Regions from separate parts of the Homo sapiens genome. Here region 1 is linked to region 2. The links come from fine-mapping of genetic effects on gene expression. A gene starts in region 2. The other region holds a variant in brackets. All regions are shown on one strand. Distances are from middle to middle. Region 1 overlaps TECR (trans-2,3-enoyl-CoA reductase). Region 2 holds the start of DNAJB1 (DnaJ heat shock protein family (Hsp40) member B1).

Evidence for each region. PIP is the estimated chance that this variant, and not a neighbour inherited with it, causes the effect.
Region 1: its variant is fine-mapped to the expression of DNAJB1 in whole blood (INTERVAL, PIP above 0.99).

What each region holds. Positions count from the first base shown.
Region 1 is chr19:14,536,968-14,539,867 of GRCh38, reverse strand. All of the region lies in intron 1 of TECR (trans-2,3-enoyl-CoA reductase), which reads right to left. It also overlaps a transcript of DNAJB1 not described here. Among named protein-coding and RNA genes, the nearest start is that of TECR, 8.8 kb to the right of the region's middle. The variant AG/G (reference allele first, on the strand shown) is at 1,331.
Region 2 is chr19:14,516,854-14,519,753 of GRCh38, reverse strand. It overlaps DNAJB1 (DnaJ heat shock protein family (Hsp40) member B1), which reads left to right and starts at 1,357. Exons shown (of 3, transcript NM_006145.3): 1 at 1,357-1,615; 2 at 2,708-2,900. The coding sequence starts at 1,405. RefSeq lists an enhancer at 1-63 and silencers at 976-1,295, 1,506-2,075.

The sequences.
Region 1 (2,900 bases), 20 kb before region 2:
ACCCAAGCCCAGATGGGCTGCGAAGGAGATGAGTGGGGTGCCAGGGTGACAGGCAAGGGGTTGGACTTTAGATTGGATGGCCAAGGAAGGTCTCTCTGGGGGACATGGAAGCTGAGCGCTCGGTAACACGAAGGGCCAGGCATGAGGAAAGCAGAGGGAAGGGCATCCAGGGCCGAGGGAATAGCATGTGCTTAGGGCAGGAACGTGGTTTTGGGTATCTGTGAAAGACAGTAGCATAGTAACAACTGAGGAAAGCAGGGGACAGATGACAAGCCTCTGAGGGAAGGTTCTGAGCCATGGCACACTAAGATCCTCCCACTTACAGGCAAAAAGGCCTTCTGCCTGTGGCTCGGTGGGGAACAGTCAGCTAGGAGGGAGCAGGAACAGAAGCAGTGTGCTCCTAGGTGAGGCAGCTGTGACAGGCACCTGGTGGCCAGACTGTCTTCTAGCCTCCACTTCCTGGGATGATTCTTTGTCACAACAGGTTAAAAAGTGGGCTCTGAGTGTGGTGTGACTTCCCCAAGGGTCTTCCCATGAAGAAGGAAAGAGCTGATCATCTCAAAATGTGACTTGCAGCCAGGTGTGGTGGCTCACGCCTGTAATCCCAGTACTTTGGGAGGCCGAGGCAGGTGGATCACGAAGTCAGGAGATCGAGACCATCCTGGCTAACACGGTAAAACTTCGTCTCTACTAAAAATACAAAAAAAAAAAAAAAAAAAAAAAAAAATTAGCCGGGCGTGGTGGTGGGCGCCTGTAGTCCCAGCTACTCAGGAGGCTGAGGCAGGAGAATCGCATGAACCCGGGAGGCGGAGATTGCAGTGAGCCGAGATGGAGCCACTGAACTCCAGCCTGGGTGACGGAGCGAGACTCTGTCTCAAAAAAAAAAAAAAATGTGACTTGCATGGTGTGTGACATTATATCAAAACTGAGGCACTGGCATCTGGGCTTCTTCCTCCACCTTCTGGGCATATGATTTGACATCAGTCTGTCTCCTGGCGCCTGGTGGACCTTCTTCATTAAGTTTTGAAGCTTTTCTCAGCCAGGCGTGGTGGCTCATGCCTATAATCCCAGCACTTTGGGAGGCTGAGGCGGGTGGATCACGAGGTCAGGAGTTCAAGACCAGCCTGGCCAAGATGCTGAAACCCCGTCTCTACTAAAAATACAAAAATTAGCCAGGCATGGTGGCACGTGCCTGTAATCCCAGCTACTCGGGAGGCTGAGGCAGGACAATCACTTGAACCCAGGAGGCAGAGGTTGCAGTGAGCCAAGATTACGCCACTGCACTCCAGCCTGGTGACAGAGGAAGACTCTATCTCAAAAAAAAAAAAAA[AG/G]AAAAAAAAGAGTTTTGAGGCCTTCCAAAGAGGTCAGGTGCCAAAAGCATCTCAGGCAGCCCTGGGGATGCTGATCTGTCCTTACCTGCCTAACGTGGGTCCCTCTCCGCTTAAGGATTTTTACCCTGCCTGTGGGCCGCGAAGCATGCTGAGCACTTCACACTCCCCCACAGGCCCCCAGGTGTCGTTATCCTGGCCTCACAGGGTGACAAAACTGAAGCTTAGGTTAAGTCACTGTCCCAAGGACAGAGTGGGTGGCCTCCAAGTCCTTCACCACCACCACACACTTGATTCTTTCCCCAGTGCACGACCCACAGCAAAGCCCACTCTGGTTCTAGAAGAATCCCAGCTCTGCTAGCCACTAGCTGTGGACAAGTCGCTTCACTTTCTGTGCCTCAGTTTCTCCATCAGTCAAGTAGAGATAAGAACAGCATCTACGTCTTATGTTTAGTACACGATTTAGATATGTTACTAGATAAGAAGCACTCACACTGCCGGCGCAGTGGCTCACGCCTGTAATCCCAACACTTTGGGAGGCCAAGTTGGGCGGATCACCTGAGGTCAAGAGTTTCAGACCAGCCTGGCCAACATGGTGAAACCCCATCTCTACTAAAAATACAAAAACTAGCCAAGTGTGGTGGTGGGCACCTGTAATCCCAGCTACTCGGGAGACTAAGGCAGGAGAATCGCCTGAACCCGGGAGGCGGAGGTGCAGCGAGCCGAGATCACGCCATTGCACCCCAGCCTAGGGGACAAGAGCGAGACTTCGTCTCAAAAAAAAAAAAAAAAAAACACTGATAATTAAGCACTATATTCACCGTAATTTACTAGGAAGATTACTATATTCTGGCTGCCGCAGGAAATGTCCCAGGTATTAAAACATTCTCAGCTGCCACTATCAGTATCAGCAAGAAGGTGTTAAGACCCAGCCTGAACTTGACCAACTAGCTCAAGGTCTCTGGCCTTTCTCACGCAGCCAGGCTTGTCAATGAAAGTGCAGGATTCCCGACCAAACCCAACCACCTTATCAGAGTCGCAAGGCCTTTCCAAGCACCGCCCTCACTCAAGGCTGTCAACCCTCCTCTGTTCTCAGGAACCAGTTAGTCCAGAAGGCTTTGCTGGGCCCAGCTGGTGGAGCCTCTAAATCCACCTGGGTGCGGCTGAAACAGCTACTCCACCTGGCACACACCAAAGCCCACCACTCATCCCGTCCCACCTTCTTGTTACTCGGTCCCGCCTCCCCCTCCCTGGTCCCGCCTCCCCCTCCCTGGTCCCGCCTCCCCCATCCAGGCCCGCCGCTTCCTTCTTGCCCCGCCTCCTCCTCCTGAGCCCCACCTCCTCCCCCTCGGCCTCCCCTTCCCCCCCGGCCCCGCCTCTTCTTTCTCAGCCCTACCTCCTCATCCTCAGGAACCACCTCCTCCACCTCAGCCCTGCCCCCTCCTCCTCCTCAGGACATGCCTTTTCCTGCTAAACTCTGCCTCCTACTCCTTGGGACCCGCCTCCCCCTCCTCGACACCCCTCCCCGTCCTCAAGCCCCACCTCCTCCTCCTCGGCCCCGCCCCCTCCTCG
Region 2 (2,900 bases):
TGGGGAAGAAAAAGAAGCACGTGTGTAAGAACGGGGAATATTTATGAGGTTCTCACTGCGTTCCAGGCACTGGGGACCCAGTGCAGACAGGACCTGGCCCCTGCCCAGGTGGCGATGTCAGACTGGGAGGGAAGACACATTGAAAGCCAAGAGACAAGATAAATTTCAAATTTAGCGGCAAGTGATCTTGAGAGGGCAGTAAAGGGAAGAAGGCGGGACTGGGAGGACCTTGGGAGATGCGCTTCCGTCCAGATCCTCACCTTGCTTTAGGAGGTGAGAACAGAGGCAGTCTTCCGTCCCAAAATCCTTCTCCCCACGGTTGGGAGAATAGCGCTGGTGGGTTTTTTGTTCATTTTACTTTATTTTACTTATTTTATTTATTTATGAGACGGAGTCTCGCTCTGTTGCCGAGGCTGGAGTGCAACGGCCGGATCTCGGCTCACTGCAACCTCCGCCTCCCCGATTCAAGCTATTCTCAGGCCTCAATCTCCTGAGTAGCTGGGATTACAGGTTCGTGCCACCAACGCCCGGGTAATTTTTATATTTTTAGCAGAGATGGGGTTTCACCATGTTGGCCAGGCTGGTCTCGAACTCCTGACCTCAAGTGATCCGCCCGCCTCGGCCTCCCAAAATGCTGGGATTACAGGCGTGAGCCACCGCGCCCGGCCTGTTTGTTAATCTTAAATAGAAACGGAGTCTCCTTATGTTGCCTAGGCTGGTCTCCAACTCCTAGGCTCAAGAGATCCTCCTGTCTTGGCCTCAGGAAGTGATGGGATTACAGGCATGAGGCTCCGCGCCCGGCCTGATAGGTTCTCTTATTGCCATGTTGTAGATAGAAGGGGGCCCCTGGGTTAGGCAGACACAGGTTAGGTAGTTCGTCCGGCGTCACCGGGCGGGAGCCCACCGCAGGCCCCACGAGACAAGGGCGAGCAGGTTCATCGCCTCCCGGGGAAAGGACTGGGTAGTCCCAGGCCCCACCCCTTCCTGGAACAGCAAGTTCGCTGTGGGTCCCGACCTACTGACCCAGGCGGAGGGCGGGACGCAGGGTAGCTGGGGCCGCGTAGAGAGGGAAAGAAGGTCGCGATTGGCTCGTCCCGAAAGGTGGGCGGGGCCTCCTCCGACCTGTGCGCGCGCGCCGCGGGGAGGTGTTGCCGAGGGCGGAGCGGGAGGGGGCGTGGCCCCGCGCGGGCGGCCGTTGACGGCGAGGCCCCGCCCCGGATGTCGCGTGTCGCTGAAAGGGCGGCGGCGATTGGCCGGCGCCGCGGGGGCGGGCGGGGCGGAAGGTTCTGGAGGGGGCTGGCGGGCTCTGGAAGCTTCCGCCGGACGGGTATATAGAGTCCGGGACTGGTCGGCGGCGGAGCCGGGGGACGGCGACAGCGGGTCGGCGGGCCGCAGGAGGGGGTCATGGGTAAAGACTACTACCAGACGTTGGGCCTGGCCCGCGGCGCGTCGGACGAGGAGATCAAGCGGGCCTACCGCCGCCAGGCGCTGCGCTACCACCCGGACAAGAACAAGGAGCCCGGCGCCGAGGAGAAGTTCAAGGAGATCGCTGAGGCCTACGACGTGCTCAGCGACCCGCGCAAGCGCGAGATCTTCGACCGCTACGGGGAGGAAGGTGTGTGCTCGCGGCCAGGGGCGCGGCCCCGCCTTTTGACAGACAGGGAAACTGAGGCACGCTGGCCCCTCTCGGCGGCCCCCCGGGAAGGACGCCCCGGGCCGTGGGGCCGAGCTGCCCCGCCCTCCGGCCTCGCGGGCCTCCGCCCTCGGATTGGCGGCCGCGCGGTGGGAGGAGGAGCCTTGGCCCAGCCGCTCGGCCAGAAGCTTCTAGCATGTCTGGGGCTGCCCCTCCCCGGGCGCCTCCTCCCGCGGCCCCGAGCAGCCCCGGGGTGCGGTGCATGGGGGTGGGGGAGCCGGGGGTGACGACGGGGACGGCGCGGCGGAGCCCGCTGCGGACCCGGGCTCACCTGGGCTCGGCCGCCGGGGTCCGCGGGGCGGCGCCTCCGGCTCAGCTGCGGGGCGAGGGGTTGTGAATGCAGGAGCCGACCCCGTTCGTGGGCTTGGGGGCTGGGTTGGGATAATTCCCGGGAAGTGATGACCTGGCCCCGGCAGGGCACGCAGGAGGCAGCGGCCGCCCAGGTCCGGAGAGCGGGGCCGCCTCGGAGGGTAAGGAGAGCAGGGCTTTTTGTTCCTGTGCCCGTTGATGATTCAGGCTGGCTTCTGGGCTTGATCTGGAGCTGACTTTTTGTGCAAGGATGGTGGCAGTGAATGCTAATGTGTGAGGATTTAAAAACTCCCTATTTATTTTTGTTTTTTTTTTTCTTCTCTTCCTACGCACCATTAGCCCTAAAACGTTGAGAGTAAACACTTACCGAAAGCCGACCCTGGACCATGTGTCTTTAGCCATCTCTTGGTGATGTTGCCAGGAGGATGGGTCAGTCCAGGAGTGGCAGGGCCTAGGTGGCACCTGGAGGTGAACACCTAACCGCATGAGTCCTTTTCCACTGTCAGGCTACGCGGAAATACTGTTGGTAGGGGGGCGTCTCTGCTGTTGGCAGTGAGAGGTAGAAACTTGGGGTTCTTCCTTGCTCTCCCCTGACAGACAAAAAAGTTCCTCCCCCATGGCTTCCAAGCTGTTTCCCCCTGTAAGGGAAGCTCGAGAGAGAGTCTGCTGTTCAGCCATCTGACTGCTTCTAAATCTGCTTTTCAGGCCTAAAGGGGAGTGGCCCCAGTGGCGGTAGCGGCGGTGGTGCCAATGGTACCTCTTTCAGCTACACATTCCATGGAGACCCTCATGCCATGTTTGCTGAGTTCTTCGGTGGCAGAAATCCCTTTGACACCTTTTTTGGGCAGCGGAACGGGGAGGAAGGCATGGACATTGATGACCCATTCTCTGGCTTCCC